3 separate regions of the Homo sapiens genome follow, and all the other regions are linked to region 1. Evidence: fine-mapped expression QTL. A gene starts in region 1. Each other region holds a variant in brackets. All regions are shown on one strand. Distances are from middle to middle. Region 1 holds the start of SREK1IP1 (SREK1 interacting protein 1). Region 2 overlaps SREK1IP1 (SREK1 interacting protein 1). Region 3 overlaps SHISAL2B (shisa like 2B).

Region 1 (4,246 bases):
CTGGTAAACTTTGTCTCCAATCTACTTTCTAGCCAGAATTATCTTTCCAAAATGTGAATCTGCTTTAAAATCCTTAAATGGCTTCCTGCCATCTGTAGGATAATGCCAAACCTCTTGTCATGGCCTACAGGTCCTTAAAGAGCTGGAAACTACCTTGTAAGTTATCCTATACGATGGCAAAATGAATGAAGTACACAGTCTAGAGGAACCAGACTGACTTCTTGCTTTCCAGCTGTCTCATAATAGGCAAATTACTTGATTTCTTTGTCCCTCAGTGTCCTCATCTGTAAAATGGGAATATTAATACTCATTTCACAGTGCAGTTGTGAATATTAAATGAGATAGAATACAATGTTTGATATAGTATCTGACATATTTGACTTATAAATATTAGTCAATATTAGCTACAGTTACTATCTACTTAATTTCTCACTTACCTCCCATTTGTATTTGAGTTCTATCCACAGAAAACATCTTTCATTCTGACATATTTGACACATAAATATTAGTCAATATTAGCTACAGCTACTACCTCTGTACTTAATTTCTCACTTATCTCCCATCTGTATTTGAGTTCCATCCATAGAAAACATCTTTCATTTCCTCTTTTCACATATTTCCTCTTCCTTTACGTATCCAGTTCCTCCGACTGCAGTCTCCTCTCCCTTCAAGCCACCCCTCCTACAATTCAGATCTCCTCCTAAGTGCTACCTCCTTTGGAAAGTCCTTCTGCCCATCCTGTATGTGTTTGGTGCCCTTACTTTGTGCTAAGGTCTTGTATTTTCCTTGCCATGGCACTTGTCCCACTTTCTGTAAATTTCTCTCTCTTCACTGCTAAATTCTAAGTTCTGTGTGAAGCGTAACCATGTCTACCTTGCTCACCACTGTATTTCCAATGCCCAGTACCAGTGCCTGGCACACAGTAGGCTTAATAAAGAGTGTACATTTCCTCTCTCACAGCTCCAGATGTACTCCTCCGCAAACTTCAGTTAGTACAAAAGCACAGTGTTCCAATAACAGCTATCTGTAGAAGGAGGTTCAAAAAGGCTGCCACAGAATAAAGAACCTGGTCAAATAATACTGGGAAGTGCAGGTTTAAACAAAGTTAGGGTTCTGAACCATAGTAATTCTATAGTTCATAGTAATTCTATAGCAATTCATAGTATTCTATTCTAATAGAATAGAATCTTTTCTATTACTAAAGTGCGCTGGGAATTTCCAAGTTGGGAGGTGGGGTGGAGAAGTGTGTATTTCTGAAAATGTCTCCTGCAATCAGTGTTCTGCAGTGGCAAAGCTGGTTTGAGGAGATGCTTTCCGCTACTAGAACTTCCAAGTAAGCTGGTAGTTGAGGACGAGAAAATCTTTTAAGTAATTATTCTGCAGAGTTCACCGTTTTTAGGTCAGTAACTTCTGGACATAGAATTTGAGAGTTAGAAGAAATCTTATATATAATTCAACAAAGCTCCTTCTTTTTATAAGGAAACTGAGGCCCAGAAGCACAAAGCGACCAATCTATGGCCACGGAGCAGCTACATACAACAGGAAGAGCTAGGAGTAGAACCCGCACACCCGGTGGGTCCTAGCGACTTCTAAGACAAACGATGCCTCCGGTTACCTGGGTCGGCCAAGTGTTCCCACTTCAAGTTTTAGTTTTAAGCCATACCACAGTTAAGGTAGTTTTTCTCGGCCGCTTGCCCCCTTAGGCCTACAGTTACAGTCTCTCCCTCCTCCCTCCCTTCCACAATACACTTTCCCTGTAATCCCAAGCAGCTGGGGCTTGGCTCCTGGGGGGAAGATAGTTATTTTCTTTCCTTCAGAGTTTATGTTTGGAGTGTAAACTTTTTCATGTAAACAAAACAAACCTGTGAATTTTAAGGCCTCCGCCTAAATCCCCATGGGCGCTGCTCCGTACACGCCGCACCCTACCCTACCCTCCCTTGCGCTCCCTTCGGAGCTCGGACGCAGAGGCCCTGTAATTGCTCCTTACCTGGGACTGCCATGACGGTGGTAAGAGGGGTAACTCGAGCCTCTGGCTTTCGAAAAGGCGCTTGCTTCCCGCCAGCTGTGAGAACAAGGCACAGTCAAAGCGGCGTTTTCCTTCCCCCAGCGCAGCAGCACCCTCGCTACGGTCGGGAAGGGCCTGTACGCCTCTAGCGACGGCAGAACCAGTAGATGCGGATGCAGTTTCCGGACGAGTCATATTGCAGAAGACACATGGTCCGAACCATTACTGATAGTTTTGGAGGGGGAGTTAGTTTGATCTGCACACGAGAGTAGTGTAAACACCGCCAACACTTATGAAGTGTCCCTTCTAATATTGTAATACAAATAACATAAATAACATTAAGCTATGGTAACTTTACGGACTTTTCTCGTTCCCTGGAGTACATTGGAATAACCCTTCTCAGGGTTAGCGGTGCTCGGGTCCGGTAACAACATGGCGGCGTCCGTGAGGGGCTCCTTTGGGCAGGGGTAGTGTTTGGTGTCCCTGTCTTGCGTGATATTGACAAACTGAAGCTTTCCTGCACCACTGGACTTAAGGAAGAGTGTACTCGTAGGCGGACAGCTTTAGTGGCCGGCCGGCCGCTCTCATCCCCCGTAAGGAGCAGAGTCCTTTGTACTGACCAAGATGAGCAACATCTACATCCAGGAGCCTCCCACGAATGGGAAGGTGAGAGCCTCATCTAGGGAACTTGGGGTCCTGGGATCCCCAAAGTGAGATTTCCCGGATTTGGGGTGGGGAGTGGGTTTCAGGATCTCGTGGTAGGAAGAGACCACGAGAAGTGTTGTCTTTACTCCTGCATGTGGACAATGTTGCATCGAAACACTGATGTTGGTACTTTTCAGGATGTACTTGAAGAAGTCAAGTGGAGATTTCTCTACCTACCAGCATTCCGGTCCTATTTAATGCTTTAACCCAACTCATGCAGCCGATTTCTGGGGTCTTAGGTTTTTAAACAGACATTTTTGAGTTTGATATATTCTTTGCTTAACTAAGGTCATTCATTCTCCATTTCTTCTACAATCATTAATTGAACGCCTGCGAGGCACTGGGCACTGTACTAGGCGCCGGAGATACAAAGATGGATGGGTAAGGTAGTTGTTTTCCCGGAAAAGCTTATAGTTTAGTTTGTGAGACAGACAGGTAAACAAAAGCCTGTATGTCTGATAAGCGTGCTTGTGGAGAAGAGACCAGGTTGCTATGGCGGTACTGAGTAGTGAACAACTGGGGAAGTTAGGAAAAGCCTCATGGAAAAGATATCTTTTGAGCTGGTTTTAAAACCTGAGATGACTGTCAGTCAGAGAAAGTGGGAAATGGGGACTATTACCACATTAGAATGGGGAAAGGTTTCTCTGATTGATTTGATGGCTAATGTATGCCAATTCCCATCCAAGATGTTTGTATGCTGTACAAGGCAGAAGAGTCTGTTGTGGAATAAGTGTCACCTGAATTCTTAAATTGAGACCTAGCTTATATCACATATGAAATTTGATGAATCAGCATATTGGAGAAAATGAGATTGGAAGTATATAGTTGAATTAAGATAAGCTAAATTTACACAACATACCATCCTGTTTGTTACATGATTGCATCATAAATAATTTATACAGTCTTTTATTCATTGACATTTGATAATGTAATGAGAGCAATTTAAAAGTGAAACCAAAAATGCTGTAATTCCCAGCAAAAATGTAATGGATATTTTATGGGCAGACCAATTCTTTCAATTCTTTGTTTGAACTTCTCCTGGGCATTGTAGATTAGTATGTCCATCCCACCCCTCACCTATCTTATTTAATATCAATGTGAAAACCCAAAATACCTACCTCCTCCTATTTCCAAATGTTTCTTGAGGGCAATATCACCCCCAGTTAATAAACACTGGTAGAGATTGAATAGATTTACCATCCTGCCAGACAGGGCCTTCACACTTGCTGTTCCTCTGTCTAATCAAGTGTTGACCTTAGCAAAGAGCCCTTTCTTATCTACTTTCTATGAAATAGCAAACTTCAATCATGCCTTGCATCCCAGCAGTCTCTGGCCCCCTTAACCTTTTTAGTTTTTTTCATGGTATTTATTAATTATTTAGTATTACTGTATCCTTCCTCCTACCTTCCCCCTATAGAATGTAAGGAACATAAGGGCAGAGACAAGCATCTGGAACAGTACTTGATACATGATAGAAGGAGTTCAGATAGGTATTGAATAAATGAATGGATGGATGAATTAATACTATATTTTTCT
Region 2 (4,246 bases), 44 kb before region 1:
TTCTAATTATTTTTTAATATTTTATTTTACTGTTATTTTTTCAAGGCTAGTCAAGTCAAGCAGTGGGAGTAAAGAAACACCACTGCACTTGTGCCAGCCTCGTTTTTAAAAAAGCTTTATATTAAAAACCGATTTTTAAAATCTTGATAATCGAAGAATATTTTCAAAAAACTAGCAGCAAAGGCAAAACAAATCCCTAAAAACCTACTGGCTCTGTATTTTTTCTCCCAGTAACTGACTGACCTATTTAAACAAAAGCATTTCCTTTTGAGAGGCCCAAATGACTAAATTAGGTTATGGAAGGGTTGAAAGCGTGAGAGCTCTCATGGCTGCAATGCAGAGGGCTGTGGATACAGCTTCCCTAGAATTTAAGCATGGGTAAGCATATGTTAAGAGGAGTTATAAGGCTCCCTGAGTCTTACTGAGGGTATCCACATTGGGTGCCAGGTGAAACAAGAATCAGTAAACCTTTCTAGCCTGTGAGGTTAAGTATACTTAGCTGATTTCACTATCATGAATTCACCTGCAGCCGTATCTATAGGTTATCAATTTGAAAATTTCTAAGCGCACCATAGTGAGGTATTTGCAATCTTTGGTGCTGTGCCATGACATTGGTTGATGTTCGATGCTTCTACAACATAAGCATTTACTTTAGTGGACATAAGGGCTACCTAAGTATTAAGCAAAGTAACACTGATCAATGTGAAAATAGAAATTTAAAAAACGTATCTACTAATATGTGTTTGAAAATGCTTACCCATATAAAATTTCCATTATTATACAAAGGCTTTCATGATGCAACTCCCTGGCTCTTAAATTTTAAAAAGTACAGAATAAAATTCTCAATTCTTTTTTTGACACTTTTTACTCTTGAGTTTGCCACTAAAGTAAAAGAGAGAAACATCCCAAACTGGTCATTTATGAAAACGTTAAGTTCAGTGTGAAACTTGCTTTAAAACTACAAATTATGTCAGACAAAATAAATATATATGCTCACATTTATAAAATTTTCCACAGTACTCATAGAAACAAGCTTCATAAAATTTATACTGAATACAATAAAAATCAGTTCTAATAAAGATTTAGCTATCTTCCTAAATAAAAATTTCTGTGTTTGAGGTATCACTGTAAGACATGCCAATATGGCACATTTGTAAAACAACCCAGGAGTCTATTCTAAAAATCACAACCAACTCAGCATCATCTCTGCAGACTTACTAACAGGCTGAACTAATCTCTTTATACAAGAAGTATTTTAATTATTACAAAAACAAAGGAGGCAGGTACTAGAAATTCTGCATTTCATAGAAGAGTAAAACTTTGTTAGAGATATTTTCATGATCATCTACCTGCAGACACCATTCATTTAAAAAGTCCTAGTCAAGACCATTAAGCAGCTGCATCTTCTACAACATTGAAAAAAAATCCCTAGAGATTTAAAAAACTGAAGAATTTCACTATCTTTAAAAGATATTATATTTTAGTACATAAAGCTATTAAATTTCTCTGTGTCAAGAGCAAAACATTACCCCTTACCTTGCTTCATCATTGGAAGGTGGACACCTGATCCAGCAATACTCATTAACTGCTAGGTAGATGACCCATGTTGATGGCAGTAAAGCCATTTTACAATGAACTTATGAAGTAGTAACACTAGCCAAACACACAGAGACACAAATACCAAAAATGATGTGTTTAGTATACACAAATAGCTATACTTGGGGCATGGCTATCAAGTAACAAGACTGATTTAATACTTTACAGTTACAGCACATTAAAAATATATTGCCAGAGGGATAATGGTC[C/A]CAAATACGAAAAATGTCTATATGGAAAAGGCTGTGATTTATTGCAAAGCATAATATATAGCAAATTCCAAGGAAGGGCAAACACGTTTTAAAAACAAATTTTTAAATTTAACGGCTTAAGCCAAAGTCTCAGTTACTTTCTGGAGAATTCAGAACTATTAGGTGTAGAAGAATGCTTTTCCTTTTTTCTCTTCTTTTTTTCCTTTTTGTGATGTTTCCCTTTTTTTGATTTACTCTTTTTTTCTTTTTTCTTTTCTTTCTTCTGATATTTTTGTTTCTTTTGTTTTGAAGTGTCCTCTTCAGTGGAACTGGATGAGTAAGACCTATGGATAATAATACATACTGACTGAGAATTGCATTTATGACTGATAGATAAATTTAAGTGGGATTTGAACTGCCTTAAATTCTTCTTGGAGTAAGGTAGGGAGTATAAACATAAACTTAAAAAATGCTTCATATATTTGCATTCCCTTAAAACGATGAATTTAGAATTTTTGCTGCTTGGTCACAGAAACCAACAAAACTAGTATCTATTCCACTCAATACTAATGTAATGAGTTTTAAAGTCAATAAGGATGAAATTATTTTTCTGTGATTTTTGGTTTTTCATGCAGTCATATCATTCAAAATCCTAAAAGGCAAACAAAGGGGCATTCACCAAGCCTTATTATATTCACTTGTGTATACAATAACTTCGCATATTTTCTTAAAAGTGTCTCAAAAGTTGCAATTCTCTATTTTAAAGGGCTATAATTGTACGTTCATATGAATGAATGAAAGCTGAAAGTTAGCAAAATAAAAGCACTTTTGGTAATTCTTCTGATTTTTCAAGTACTTGATCCCTCTAGACGGAGAGTGATACAGATGAATACTTGCATTACAAAATAATTTTCATTAGTTACAAAAGGATGCTTTTATGCTATATATAAATGAAAAAGGATGGGTTATCATTGTGCTTTTGAAAAATATTACTCTAATACTAAATTGAAAAAATTGGTTCAATTCCTTCCTCTAATATTCATAAAAAAAAGGAAAAGAAAAAGAAAAAAACAGAAAACCCTATCTTTTAAGATCTTACTTAAAGAGATGTGCAACATTCTACCTATACTCAAACTCAAAATATGAGTGACAAGACAGAAACTGAGTTAATTTAAAATGTAAACAAAGGTATCTAAAGAGTTAGTTTAGTGATCTAAATATTAGGAGTTAAAACTCAAACTAAGAAAATCTGAGACGGATATAAAGGAGGTGCCAATGTAAATTCAGGAGACTACAGGGCTCCAAGGCTATTTTGTGTCTGTATAGTGTGTGAATTCCTTGACTGCCTTCCTCCTTTAGTGACTCCGAGTTTTCCCTTATTTTTGTAATGTTGTGTTCCTTTTTCCTCCTTGTTTGTCTACTTACTTAGACTTCCAATCATCTGTTAAAGCTTATTTTCTCATGTATTCTCCTGCACCCTTGCCTCTTCAGTTGTTATTCTCAAATCTTGTCTATTTTCCTCTTTTAAAGACCCTGTTTGACTTGACCTCTGGATTCTGACTAAAGCTTCTTCCCTGCCTGCACTTTTTTCTTTAGCTTTTTGGTCCTGAAGTTTTTTTTTTTGTTTGTTTCTTTTTTTTTTTTTTTTTTCTGAGACAGAGTTTCACTCTTGTTGCCCAGGCTGGAGTGCAATGGCGTGATCTCGGCTCACTGCAACCTCCGCTCCCCCGAGTTCAAGCAATTCTCCTGCCTCAGCCTCCCAAGTAGCTGGGATTACAGGTACCCACCTGTAATCCACCAGCTAATTTTTTTTGTATTTTTAGTAGAGATGGGGTTTCACTGTGTTGGCCAGGCTGGTCTCAAACTCCAGACCTCAGGTGATCGACCCACCTTAGCCTCCCAAAGTGCTGGGATTATAGGAGTGAGCCACCGTGCCTGGCCTGAAGTCTCCTTTTTAAGGCAAAATTTCAGGCTGTGGCATAGCAACACTTTCAGGGGGCACTATCTCTGCTAAGTGTGCACAGAAAAGTTAATTTAATTTCAGGTTTGTGATGCTCAAGGTAAAGAGGCCCAAATAAATAATCTGTTACTATAAAAAATATTTGGGAGGCTGAGGCAGGCGGATCACAAGGTCAGGAGATTGAGACCATCCTGGCTAACACGGTGAAACCCTGTCTGTACTAAAAATACAAAAAAATTAGTCGGGCATGGTGGTGGGCACCTGTAGTCCCAGCTACTGGGGAGGCTGAGGCAGGAGAATGGAGTGAACCCGGGAGGCGGAGCTTGAAGTGAGCTGAGACTGTGCCACTGGACTCCAGCCTGGGCAACAGAGCGAGACTCTGTCTCAAAAAAAAAAAAAAAAAAGAAATATACAGATGTACTTCAACTTATGATGGAGTTACGCCTTGATAAATCTATCTGAAGCTGAAAATACACAAAATACAGCTAACCTACTGAACATC
Region 3 (4,246 bases), 49 kb before region 1:
CTGTTCTTTACGTATTTATGTTATTTTCTATTGGTGAAATGATACATTAATTATTTCTACAATCATTCAACTTTTCCTAACACTGTTCATTGAATAATCCATTTCTTTGCTATGTTTGTTTAGACTAACTTCTGATCAGCAAAGATCCATATTCCTTCACCTTTGCTCATTTTGGACTCATATTTATATGGAGTGAGTGAATGGGATTGTGGCACTACTGTGTCCTTTTAATAAACCACATCTAAATCAGTTATAATGGCAAAGCCTTAAGGTTGGGCAAGTTACTATGATTGGCTTTAGTGTAGTTTATGCATAGGAGAGGGACAGTCACACTTTTGTTAAGTCACTCAGAAATTGTTACCTTCTTATCAGATGTGTAGTTATTTTCCTCATGGAAGCATGGAGGAAAAAAGGTAAGCATGGAAATAAATTTTTTTATTACTGAATTATTTCCCTTATTTGACTTTCATAAGGAAATACTCAAAAACCACTTCAAAATAACTCAATTCTCACTCATACACATAGCATTTTCAGGACATCATATTTTCAATATTGCTACAAAAATTATTTTTAAGTGCAAATTTTTATAAGTGAAACGATGTCATAATTTCAAATAATTATTTTGTTTTGTGTATCTGCAGGCAAGTCAAATGGAAAAACCAAAGCCCTCAATTCAAATGCAGCATCAAATGCAACAAATGAAACATACTATGAAGCTGATGATATAATTCAAGAAAAAACAATGGATGCAACACAAATCCACATTGCTTATTAACTAAAAATTCTGTGTTTTAAATGCTTACTGGAGAGATGGGACAATAAAAATAAAGCGTGCACTTGAAACGGTTTGTAATATTGCTTTTCAAAAATTCGTCACTCACAAAGCAAGACACAGCTGCATTTTTGATCATTCAGTTACTTTATTAAACGCACATTAAGGTTTTATTGGTTTTCCTTTGTATAAATTTATTTGCTAATTAAGATGTTTCTGTATCACATGAGATTATGCTAATTATTCAGGAGAAATTAAATAATTTATCAATAACAAGATAAGCAGTCCTATCTCAGTGAAGAACAGTGAGAAGTTTATGTCACATTACCAGCATTTCTCAACTTTCTGATACTTACAGGCAGTTATTCTTATGAGATGGTACTGGATAGGTAAATATCAAGGGAACTGTCTTAAAAACTAGAGGTGACTTGTTCTTAAATCTCTTAGAAGTCAACCCACATCTTTTTAGATTTTTCTGGGCACAAACAATATACTCAGTAACAAAAAAATCACAATGTATAATCTGTACAATAAATATTTTGTTTCAAGAGATAAGCATAACAAAAAATCCTTTGCTGATATATTTCCTAAATAATCTGTATAATGAAAGCTACAAAACAAATGAGTTCTCTGGTCCCACCTAATGCTATCACATTAATACCACCTAGAAATCTAGAAATAAAACTAATTTCTGCAAATTATAATTTTTAAAGATTTTTATTCATAAGTGTGTTTTCTATTATAACACAGACCTGGTTTTGTAACAGAATTCAACAGAAAAAAAAAGGGAATTATTTTAAGCAGCTCTACTGAGCATATCTACTATGTCCTGTAGTTTTTGTAGTCAGAAACTAGCATTTCAGACAAGATCTGGCACATTTAGGGTGGTATGGCCATAGCCAAAAACTAGCATTTCAAAATGTGCTGAATACAGCTTCTCTGGTCTGATATATAAAAAAGAATACCTTATTTTTCTTGGGCATGCAAAGCTCAGGGTTACAAACTTTTCGTCATTAGCCTGTCAAAATTTCTACCAAGTACTAAGGTTATCTTCTAGACCAGAATTAAGAGAAGTTTCTGTGATGATGGAAATGTTCTTTCTATATCTGCACTAATATGGTAGCCACCAGTCACATGTGGCTACTGAACACTTAAGATGTGGCTAATGCAACTGAAAAAATAAAATTTTTCATTTATTTAATTAATTTAAATAACCCTATGTGGCTATACTGGCACCATAGTGCCAGATCACTATTGCAACAACCTACTGCCAAAGTTGAACTTCACATTCAAAAATACAATTTTGCAAAGGTTTAAATACTAAAATTGCTTAAAGTATATGTTAAGTTTGAAAATTAAGACATTTCCATTATAAAAATGACATTTTACACGGCCATAAAAACAAAGAATTTTCACTTATTTTTTGTGAAAGTTTATAAAGCTTTTATGGGTGCTTCTTGATCTTTGATACAACTTTGATTTTAAAGTATCCCAGAAAATTTGCTATCTTTACA[G/C]TAATTTAATAATATTACCATATTGTCTCAGGTGAAAATCTAGGTTGAGAAAAATTTAGTTAAGGCACTGGCACCATTCTACTTTTGTTGCTCATGGCCAAGGACTATAAATGGCACAAGAAGCAAGAAACAGACAGAGCTAGCAAAATGCTCACTGCCCCAACTCCTCCCAATTTGTGGGAAAGGCATAGTGGGGTCAGGCATGACTGGATGCATCATGGGTTGTGCTATAGAAGAGGCACCCCAATTCTCTGCCACTCTACCTATTTTTAGAGGAGTTGGGAGGAGATACTGAGATCAGAAGACTGGCCTTCGCAACTGGGATTATTGTCACACTGGTATAAGAAACCTACTGTTCTTGGGCACCCAATGTCCAGGAAGTTTTGGTCTCAGCACTAGGATCAGCTGGAGTCCTTGAAGCACTCCCTGCTGAGCTAGCTTATCACTAGGTTACCTGAGGTAGAACCACAGGGCTCATCCAGTGGACCAACTGGTATGTTTCTCTGTAACTCTGAAGCAGTTGTGCTTCACAGGTTAAGCCAAATTTTAAAAGCAAGGGGCCTTATTAAATTACAGCACATTTTGTACACTGAAAAATATTCTAAATGGTTTATTCGGACCTAACAAATATTAAAATAGTGATAGAATTTAAGTCAGTCAAAAATAACCTAAAATACAATTAAGAACAAAACACATCTCAAAGTATGTACATGTACATATAACTCTGGGGATGGATCTAATAAAGAATACAGTAGCTTTATGTGTTTTTAGATGATTTAGGTTACTGTGTAATTTTTGGAAATAATAATGAGACTGTAGAAAGAAATGTGAGTCTAATAATAGAGCCTAAAATAATCAAATTATATTTTATGTAGCCTTCTAATGAAAGCAATTTCATCTTTTAAAAATGGTGGGATTAATCGGATTATGAAATTGATAAAACCAAACCCTAATAAAAGTCATTTCCTTCCTTAAAATCTTTTTTTTTTTTTGAGATAGAGTCTCGCTCTGTCGCCCAGGCTGGAGTACAGTGGTGTGATCTCAGCTTACTGCAACTTCCACCTCCTGGGTTTGAGCGATTCTCCTGCCCCAGACTCCAGAGTAGCTGGGAATACAGGTGCCTGTCACCACGTCCGGCTAATTTTTCTATTTTTAGTAGAGACAGGGTTTCGCCAAGTTGGCCAGGCTGGTCTTGAACTCCTGACCTCAGGTGATCCGCCCGCCTCAGCCTCCCAAAGTGCTGGGATTACAGGCGTGAGCCACTGTGCCCGGCCCCCCTTGAAACTCTTTAATGGTGTCTCATTGCTTACACATTACAGTTCAAGCTCCCAAACACGGAACACACGACTCCTTCCTCCTGTTCCTAAGAACTTAAAATGGTAGTCTCAATTCTTACCACTTCCTGCCTCGCCTATGATACACCAGCAACACCAGATTGCTTGTAATTCTTGACAAACACATAACACAGCTTGTTCTACCTCTGGTGTTTGTTCACAGTACCCACTCTGTCAGGAACTGCCATAACCCTCATTCTTATCCTTAATCAAATTGCAATTCAGTCACTACTTTCTCTAGGTAGCCTCTTCTAATTTATCCAGACTACTTTAGGTAACCCCGAGTTTCTATAAACTCATGTTCATGTCAATTACTGCACTAATTATATAACGGTGTATGCTCTGGTGTTTCTCCTACCAACTACACTGTGAAGTCCTTCAGGGAGGCAAATGTGTCTTACTTATCTCTGTATCCCCAGTACTTAGCACAGCGTTTGCCACGTTAGGTACTCAATAAATATTTGTTGAAGAAAGGATTCAATGGCATTTTTATCAACATTATTAACAACTCTTCAGCCTAGTTTACTCTGAAGGTAAACTAGGGTTATATAATTTTAGATACAGTTGTAAATACAAACACATATAGTTGTTTTACTTCTCATTTATTGTTGTTTTGACCTCAGAGA

The links. PIP is the estimated chance that this variant, and not a neighbour inherited with it, causes the effect. A credible set is the group of variants that fine-mapping cannot tell apart.
Region 2: its variant is the best candidate, but not a certain one, in a credible set for the expression of SREK1IP1 in skeletal muscle (FUSION, PIP 0.86).
Region 3: its variant is the best candidate, but not a certain one, in a credible set for the expression of SREK1IP1 in whole blood (INTERVAL, PIP 0.64).

The regions. Positions count from the first base shown.
Region 1 is chr5:64,766,518-64,770,763 of GRCh38, forward strand. SREK1IP1 (SREK1 interacting protein 1) reads right to left here and starts at 2,174. Exons shown (of 5, transcript NM_173829.4): 1 at 1,988-2,174. The coding sequence starts at 2,000. CWC27 (CWC27 spliceosome associated cyclophilin) reads left to right here and starts at 2,413. Exons shown (of 14, transcript NM_005869.4): 1 at 2,413-2,671. The coding sequence starts at 2,630. It overlaps LOC124900985 (a long non-coding RNA gene), which reads right to left and starts at 1,979. Exons shown (of 4, transcript XR_007058787.1): 1 at 438-1,979. RefSeq lists enhancers at 1,458-2,184, 1,556-2,755, 1,907-1,996, 2,147-2,466, 2,185-2,909 and a silencer at 1,925-2,219.
Region 2 is chr5:64,722,446-64,726,691 of GRCh38, forward strand. SREK1IP1 (SREK1 interacting protein 1) reads right to left here. Exons shown (of 5, transcript NM_173829.4): 5 at 1-2,128. The coding sequence ends at 1,939. Among named protein-coding and RNA genes, the nearest start is that of SHISAL2B, 34 kb to the left of the region's middle. The variant C/A (reference allele first, on the strand shown) is at 1,806.
Region 3 is chr5:64,717,248-64,721,493 of GRCh38, forward strand. It overlaps SHISAL2B (shisa like 2B), which reads left to right. Exons shown (of 3, transcript NM_001164442.2): 3 at 642-943. The coding sequence ends at 775. SREK1IP1 (SREK1 interacting protein 1) reads right to left here. Exons shown (of 5, transcript NM_173829.4): 5 at 901-4,246. Among named protein-coding and RNA genes, the nearest start is that of SHISAL2B, 29 kb to the left of the region's middle. The variant G/C (reference allele first, on the strand shown) is at 2,287.